Regions from separate parts of the Homo sapiens genome. Here region 1 is linked to region 2. The links come from fine-mapping of genetic effects on gene expression. A gene starts in region 2. The other region holds a variant in brackets. All regions are shown on one strand. Distances are from middle to middle. Region 1 overlaps VEZT (vezatin, adherens junctions transmembrane protein). Region 2 holds the start of VEZT (vezatin, adherens junctions transmembrane protein).

What was found.
Region 1: its variant is fine-mapped to the expression of VEZT in CD8 T cells (CEDAR, PIP 0.95).

The regions. Positions count from the first base shown.
Region 1 is chr12:95,298,581-95,302,979 of GRCh38, forward strand. It overlaps VEZT (vezatin, adherens junctions transmembrane protein), which reads left to right. Exons shown (of 12, transcript NM_017599.4): 12 at 1,585-4,219. The coding sequence ends at 2,093. Among named protein-coding and RNA genes, the nearest start is that of MIR331, 7.6 kb to the right of the region's middle. The variant G/A (reference allele first, on the strand shown) is at 2,038.
Region 2 is chr12:95,215,384-95,219,782 of GRCh38, forward strand. It overlaps VEZT (vezatin, adherens junctions transmembrane protein), which reads left to right and starts at 2,424. Exons shown (of 12, transcript NM_017599.4): 1 at 2,424-2,503. The coding sequence starts at 2,468. It overlaps FGD6 (FYVE, RhoGEF and PH domain containing 6), which reads right to left and starts at 2,084. Exons shown (of 21, transcript NM_018351.4): 1 at 1,842-2,084. The coding sequence starts at 1,857. RefSeq lists enhancers at 1,748-2,342, 2,343-2,938, 2,403-2,642, 3,243-3,292 and a silencer at 1,943-2,172.

The DNA.
Region 1 (4,399 bases), 83 kb after region 2:
TATGTCAGGCACTGTTTACTGCTGTATCCCTAGCGCAAAGATCAAGAGACAAAATGTAAAGCCTCCTACCTGCCTCAAGGCTTAAATTCTAACACACTCGTCAATTGATCCTCTCATTACTCAGATTATATCCACCCCATTTAATTAGTAATAATTGTGAACTATCAACCAACTTCTAATATATGTTGCTTCCTTTAAGAGCTAACAGATTTATAAACTAAGAATGTACATATATTGAAAATAGCATTGTATATAAACTTATATCCTTTTTTATTGTTTAGTGTTTCTTCATATAGCTTTAAAATTATGCTATTGACATTATGGGAAAGATTTATCAATGAGAGAAATGTGTCTCTTTTTCAGGTATGTGCTTTTGATATAGTTTACATTGGAAAGGGTCATAATGCTGTTTTAGTTTGTGAAAATAAGTAAAAAGCTGCTGATACCATAGAATGCTTTTCCCATGAAAAATTTCAGTACATCTTCCAGAGCTGTTTTCATCTCTGCCTACAGGGGTAAAGTCCGCATGGAATTAGAGGGGGAAAGTCTGCACTGGAACCTGCTGTGGCCATTTTTTTTCTGTTGTTGCTGCTTCTCTAGTGGAGTTACTGCAGCTTAGGGATGGTTCCTGGAAGTGGACACATTTTACAAAAACGTTTTTTAAATACACGCCAGCTCTTCGAGAAGCACTTTTTTCCTTCCGTCATGCTTCATACTATATTGTATTGTACTAACCCCTCATGCTGGGATGAGCGACTGCCTAGCAAGCAACCCACTGCCTACTAACATCAAGAGGGGCTAAATAAAACTGCATTTTCCTTGCAAGGACAACTTCTACCGTATGAATATATATTATATTTATGTATTATATTTTGTACAATAGTTGATCTTGAATGCAGACTTCATTTGTATTTTTCGTGGTACTACAAAATGTGTAGAAGTTATGGCTTTTCTTTCATTAGGGTCTTGTTAGGTGGTTGGCAAGTAAGTTAAATTGTATGTTGCATTTTTTTCCATGCTGTTTTAACTTGTAAATATATATGTATACATATGGAAGATATTATTATTATCTAGATTACTTTAAGCCTTTTATCTGATGTATTATCAGTGAAAACCATGCTGCTTATTCCCTAATACAATGGTTCTCAAACTTTAGTGTGTATCAGAATCAAGATGAGGGCTTGTAAAATATAGCTGGTCCCTACTCCCAGAGTTTCCATTTCAGGAGGTCTGGGATCAGGCCCAAGAATTTGCATTTTTAACAAATTCCTAGGTGATAACTGATAATGTTGGTTCAGGGAACACACTTTCAGAACCACTGCTTTAATATTTTAAATAAGATAATATGTGAGGTGTCATAAAAACCTTCATCAAATCCCTATCTCATTTCATTTCTTAGGCATTTTCTCTCTTATAAAGTTTCCTGGATTTATAAATTTTCATTGATTTTACTAGAAAGTTTTATTTAGCTTTTATTTATTTATTGTTCTTTTTAAGAAAAAAACTGAGAGTTTGAATTAAAAGTTTAAATCATTGCTAGGTCCTTAGTTATTTTTTTTCTTTTTTCTTTTTTTTTATTTGAAGCCGTGTTGAAATCCTTGTCTCCTGTAGACCCAGTGGAACCCATAAGTAATTCAGAACCATCAATGAATTCAGATATGGGAAAAGTCAGTAAAAATGATACTGAAGAGGAAAGTAATAAATCCGCCACAACAGACAATGAAATAAGTAGGACTGAGTATTTATGTGAAAACTCTCTAGAAGGTAAAAATAAAGATAATTCTTCAAATGAAGTCTTCCCCCAAGGAGCAGAAGAAAGAATGTGTTACCAATGTGAGAGTGAAGATGAACCACAAGCAGATGGAAGTGGTCTGACCACTGCCCCTCCAACTCCCAGGGACTCATTACAGCCCTCCATTAAGCAGAGGCTGGCACGGCTACAGCTGTCACCAGATTTTACCTTCACTGCTGGCCTTGCTGCAGAAGTGGCTGCTAGATCTCTCTCCTTTACCACCATGCAGGAACAGACTTTTGGTG[G/A]TGAGGAGGAAGAACAAATAATAGAAGAAAATAAAAATGAGATAGAAGAAAAGTAAGAACCAAGATTCATATGAAGTGATATTAGATTGTTCCTTTTACAAAAGTGTTTAGCTTCAAGACTGGAAAGGGAATATGAGTGTAAGTTTACTATATATAAAGCTAAGATGTGGATTTACAGGAAGAACCCTGGTTTGAATAACTGATCTGAAATTAGTAGTTACCTGTAAATGGCAGATCTTTTAGGAAAATAAGAGAAAGGTAAGGGCTCTTTTGAATAAACTGCTGTTTTATTTGTGGCACAACTGATCAATCTTGGAAATTCTTTAAGTATTTTTAATAAGAAATGAATTATCATTTCTTGCCAGAATTTGCTACCTTAAGGTGATTGGGAAAATTCTGTTGCAAGAACATTAACATTTAGTATGACTCCTTTTTACTGTATTCTTGCAGTTAATAACTGCAGCTATTATGTTAATAACAAGTTGTTTGTATTTTATTTTTGTTTATACCAGTCTTAAAGATCCAGGTTCTGAATAAAAAAATTAATTGATACAATTGATGTGTGCTGGGGTTTGGAACTAAAAGTAGTTTCAACAGTGCGTGGGTTATGACATTTCTTATGTTTCTTTGTTCATGTGTGTATTTAGTAGTTAATTTTAAGATGTCCTAGTGATCTTTAAAAGAAAAATATTGTACCATTTTTTAGAATTACACTTTCACCTTTCTTTTTGCAATTGAAAGTGATGATGTCAAAGTGGGATTTCTGTACTCCAAGGCCCCACCCCCAATTTAGCAAGCAGAAAAACGTTCCTTGTATCACTTTACCTTGGATAATTGGGTGCCATTAACACAAACAGGTCACAATCCTGCTGTTTTCTAGCCCTGTCCACCATAATGAGATTCAGGAAACATCCTGTCAGCCTCCTGGAAAGCATCCTTGTCTCCTTAGTATTTCATTTACAAACTACCTCTTAACAGAGACTGCTTTTCAAATTGGCCAATCTTACCTGTTTTGTGTTGTGATTGCATTTTCAAAGAGTAATTATTTTCAGCATATACAGTTTTGAAACCTGTAGCTCCTATGCAATAACATAGTTCTATAGACATTATTTGGGGGAAATGTAGTAATAACTCAATCTATGTTGCTGTCCTAGAAAGGAAATTGCATGATGAATCTAGATTGTCTTTAGAGTAAAGAAACACATTCAAATTCCTGTAACTTATCACTTTCAGTGAGTAAATTTACTTATACCAAAGGGGATTTTTTTTCTTTCAGGAATCTAAGGAAATTTACTTTTTAACCTGAGAAAAAAACTTGGTTCTGCTTTATATAAACAGTAGAGATTATTGTACTATAAGTGATTTTGCCTTTTTGCCAAAATCCTGGAACTCATCTATAATTAACCTCTTCGGAGCAATACCTTAGGTTGGGCCTTGCTTTACTACTTAGAAATAGCTAAATTTCAATTTTAAAAATCTTTGTGTGTTATAACTGTTAAATTATTCAATAATACTTAGGGTTTACTTTCTTATTTAAATCACTTATTTAGTTTACCGACTTCATTTTTCTTTGGATTTAGAAGAAGCAATTATGGAAAAACTTGGTAATCTCTCTCAACCTATAACCTTACACAGGAAGAATTAGAGTTTAATAATTTTTAATTCTTTTATTGTATGTTACTTTTATTACACCAGTTTGGGGGAAAATCTTCATAAAATTGTATCAGTTTTATTCAGTGTTCTCTAAGGTGATACCTTTTAATTTTGAAAGACTAAATAATTTTAATCGAGAATTTCCAGTCTTTCAGTCTGATCTATTTAATTCACTACTTGTTACATAATCCAGTGAAAACTCTACTTGTTGAAATTATGACATAAAGATCTTGCAGCTTTATTTGAGTATTTGTTCTTTTGTGTAGTTTCCATCTTTTAAAATATTTAAAATATTTTCAAGATAAAGTATTATCTTCTCTGCAAAAATTCCTGGAGTAATTTTCTCTCATAATATTTGAAGTCAGTGGTTCTCAGTTGTATTAGTGGGGTAACTACATCAAAATAAATAAAGTCTTATTTTTAAAATGCAAATTTTAGACCATACTCCCAGTGATTCTTAGTTGGTCTTTTTGGAATGAGCCATAGGTAATGTTTATGTCCAATAAAATCTAGGAACCTCTGTCTGGAACTTTGCTCTTCTTGCCATGAATACCTTAGGAAGTATTAAAAAACAGGCCAATGTAATATGAGTAGGTTTTCTTGTTTGTTACTTTTCTAAGAATATTTTACTTCCCTTAGCAGGCTTTTGGCTAGCTTTCAAAGCTGCCACCCTGGCCAGGTGCGGTGGCTCACGCCTGTAATCCCAGCA
Region 2 (4,399 bases):
ACGTTTCAATGAATTTGACTATTGTTCCCAAAAAGCACCATAATCAGCTTGTAAGAACTATGTATACATATAAGAATGGGTAGAAATAAAACCCCAGTTCTCTTCCATATTCCCCATCTAGACACCAGAAAGAATTATGATAAATCCAACAGATGGGTGAGCAAAAAAGTAGTTGATGCTTCTCAGCCAGCAATGCTAAAAACCAACCAACTCGGCTAGACACAGGAAGTGTCCCACTTTAAACACCACAAAAATTTCTGTGGATTTCTTTAATTGTAAAGTTGATAAAATACAAAAATAGCTTGCATTATTTTAGGATAATTCAAATGCAAGAATCATGAACTTCCAGTCTGGGCCCTAGAAATTGGGTTTACATAAATGTGAAATTACATGCTTCTGTGCCTGTTCCTTATAAACTGTTAAGACTGGAATTGAAAACTGATACATATAAGACACGGTTATTTTAAATACATTTGACACCTCCAAAAAGGAAAGAGCTAAAACTGGCTGGAAGGATTTTAAAATTTCCAACCACTTTTAATTTAAATCAATTTCTTGAACGAAGGTAAGGCACAGAAATGTAGGATGAAAATAATTTACCTTATGTAAGTATAAAGCCTCCCTTTGGCAAAGAAAAGAGAGTTTATAAAGATATCTCATATAAGTGCATATAACATCAAAAAGGAAAGACCCACACAACACCCACTTCTTGCTTTCTTTTCCTATTGGCTAACTTCTTGTTTCGTTTGTTGTAATCTGATCACAGGGAGCAATGCAACACTACAATATATCTAGGCTTTAGAAATAATACAAATCAGAACATTTGAGTGCTGTTGGACAGTTTCAAGTTGCAAGAATTTTAAACAAATGCCAAGAAAAGCAATGAAAATTTAATCTGATACTTAAGTGCTGATTCTGGAAGTAACCTTGAGAAGAAGCTTTAAACTATTTCACTATAAAATTTCTAATGAAAGTTTCAACGTGGACAAAAACGTAAAATAACCCATAACACTCTACTTAATACATAAGTTCTGGTTTAAAAATTAACCTATGTACTTACGAAGTGAACGTAACACCACTTTGGTAATTATTTTGTAAAACAGAAATTGTTCCTTAAGAATGTTCAGAAACACAACGTCTAGAATTGCTGAAAATCCACACAAAGATAGAGGCTTTGTCATTTGGATGAAGGGGAAAGAACTATGGGAGGCAGACAGAAAATAAAGCTTTGTTTACCCTAATCAGGTAGAAACAAACAAAATAATTGTAATTGGGTGCAGACAAGCAAAAAAAAAAAAAAAAAAAAAACCTCAACAATCTCAACTCCTCTGCTTCTCAGGTAACAGAGGTAAAACCACCAGGACATGACAATGTCTACGCCTCTTTAAAATGGGTAAAAGGTTTACCAGCAGATACAAGGTTGAAAGCGACTCACTTAGTGGCCAAATTGAACACGCTGAGAACACTGCCTTTACCTATAATAACTGATCTATTAACTTGGGAATCTACACTATTTTCACATGCAAAGGCGAAGTCCTCGCACTGCTGGAGAGATGAGCGAACGCCCTTCACACATCGCATTTCACCTGGTGCAGAGCCCCCAGCACAGTCCCCCTTGGAAGGGAGATCCCGAGAAATCCCGGGTTTCCAAACAGCCCCTCTGGGCAGGAAAAGACGAGAAAGCCGGCAGCGAATCCCATTAGCTCCGCGCTTGCCGAGGTGCTCGGCAAAGGTACGGGGCACACAACTCGCCCACCCCGGCGAAGAAAGTTGCTCGCGAGCCCAAGCCTAGCAGCGCTCGCCACAAACTTTCCCGCGGCAGCGCGAGCGCCGTCACTTACCGGCTGCAGAAGTCATGATTCCCCGGTGCAGCTCGCTTCCCCGCTCGGCCCCTCAATCCATCTTCCCCTTTCAGTCCATTGTTCCCACAGTTCGGGTAGGAGAGAAAAGCCCCCGCAGCGCCCACATTCCGTCCCGCCGCCCCGCGGCGCAGCCTGAGCGCCACACAAAGGACGCGGCCGACTCTAGCGACCCTGCGGCGCTCCCGGGCGCGAGCCGCCGGGGTCGGGCGGGCGAGCACTAGCACCGCCCCGCAGAGCGGCAGGCTGACAGCCAGGCGCGGGCACGAGCAGTGCTCTCTTCGGCTCCGCTGGCGCGTGCCCTTCTCGGGCTCCAAAAATCAGCAGTGCTCCGGGCGCCCCCTGCTAGTCGCGGCCGTAAAAGGCAGACAAAAGCCCTAGCCTCCTCCAATCGGAGGGCTCGAGCTTCAGCTCGCTCCCGCCTCTCTCGCTTACACGCTCACTCTCTTCTCCAATAAGCGGGCTCGAAAAGGGGGCGTGAGCGGCGAGGCATATTGGGAATTGTAGTTTTCTGGACCCACGGGACGGGCAGGAGCTGGAGCTCCGTGCCGCCTGTACTCCCGCCTTCATTTCCCATCGTGCTGAGGCGGGTGGCATGGCGGAGAAGGATGACACCGGAGTTTGACGAAGAGGTGGTTTTTGAGGTAAGAGGAAAATGGCGGTGGGTGTGGATTGCCTTTGTTTGAGAAGGACGAGACGGAAATCGAGGAAGCAAGGCGTTCCCGGGGCGAGGGATCGGGTGACGCGCTCCAGCTGGCCTCGACCACCGAACCCCAGCGATTTCAGGGCCTAGAGTCCGTCGTCGCCTGACAGGTGTAGCCAGAGGCGCCCTGGCCGTGGCCGGCCTCTATCTCGGGCCCGCCCAGAATTCCCAGACGGTGCCCGGTTGCCAGGCTCTGGGCTGGAGCGGTGTCTCTTCCTTCCTGGGAATGGATGTGCGGCGGGGGGGACTGCGCCCGGCTGGGGCGGGGCCGAATCGTGCCTTTTAGATAGTCACAACTTAGCCTCCTCCTTTTCCATCCGCGATTTTTTTGGGTCAGTATCCAGAGTGCTTCAGGTCACTGTTCACCGTCAAGGCGTGGCCCTCGGAATGAAGGCAGCAGGTGCCCGTTTTCTAACACGGTTTAAAGTCTATTTGTGGGACCTACTGTGGGTAGTTAGGGCCAGGGCATCTCAGCATCTAGATTCGATTCTTTTGTCCTTTGCTGTTGCGCTAGGTGTAGCCAGTTCTTCTGACTCGGGGCTCTAGATGTGAGTGCTTTTGTGTGGGACTATTTTAAGACGTTCTCTGCCATCTTGAATGAAAAAAATCGGGCGAGTGTTTTTGATGCCATTTTTTTCCATCAGACACAGGTCAAAACTCGCACCCCTGTACGTATGTGTATTGCATGTATACGCTTTACTTTCATTTATCCAACTAGATTTTAAGAAAATTTAAAAATGAAGTGGCCCATGCCATACAGCGAGAGAGCGAGGCACAGACAGGACAGAATGCTAAATGTTGAAATATGTACAAACTGTCATTGAAGGATTAATTTCTGTTCTTGCGGCCTCCCAGAGGCTACACCCAGTACGCGATATCCGAGGTGAATCTTTAACTATGAATTGGATTAGAAAAACCGGCAGGAGAAAATGTATTACAGGGAAAGAGAACTGATTATGCCAAGCTTGGGAAGTGTGAAAGTACCTGGTGTGCATTTTTAGGGGGCGGGGTGTGGAGGGTGGCTATGTAAAGTGGCTTGATGTGGCTGCAATGAAGAAGCAGTGGAAAATGTGGCCATTTTACCGAAGTGAAGAGTCTAGATATGAGGCGTTCATTAGGGAAGACAAGGGCCTGAGATGAAATGAGAGACGTAATGGAATAATGGCTTGGACAGACACTTGTAAGTTAAAATCGAGGCAATGTTTATAGATTGAATGTGGTAGCTGAAGGAGAGAGAAATATTTTCTAGAGTAAGGGTAACTGATGGGTGTATTTTTTTTACCCATTATTTTTGATTTCTGAATATAATAGTAATATATGCTCAAGGAACATTTTATTGTAGAAAATAAGCCCCCAAGTTAAAATCATCCATTATCCCACCACCCAAAGATGGTAACTATTAACAGTACGGTATGTGTTCTTATAGACTTTATTTCTATGTAAATGTGTGTTTATGTGTGTGTAATTTTTTAGCCTCTATATTAAGACACAATGTGTGTGTGATATTTTTTAAAACAAAAGGTATACCACGTAGAATTTTGTATATATTTTTCACTTGACTTTATCGTGAATCTTTTCCCATTCATCATTCTCTGAAAACATTAATATTATAATATCCCCTCACGTGTATCATAATATAACCTTTTTTTAAAAAAATACCATTGTAATCAACAGTGATATAAGCCTATTTTTAACTACAACTCTGATTTTCCTCAGAATAATTTTTAGAAGTAGAACTAGTGGGTGAAAGAATATGAACATTTAAGACTTACGCAGAAAGGTTATACCAATTCCGGTTTCCATTAAGAATAAGAGAGTATTGGTTTCACCAAATCCT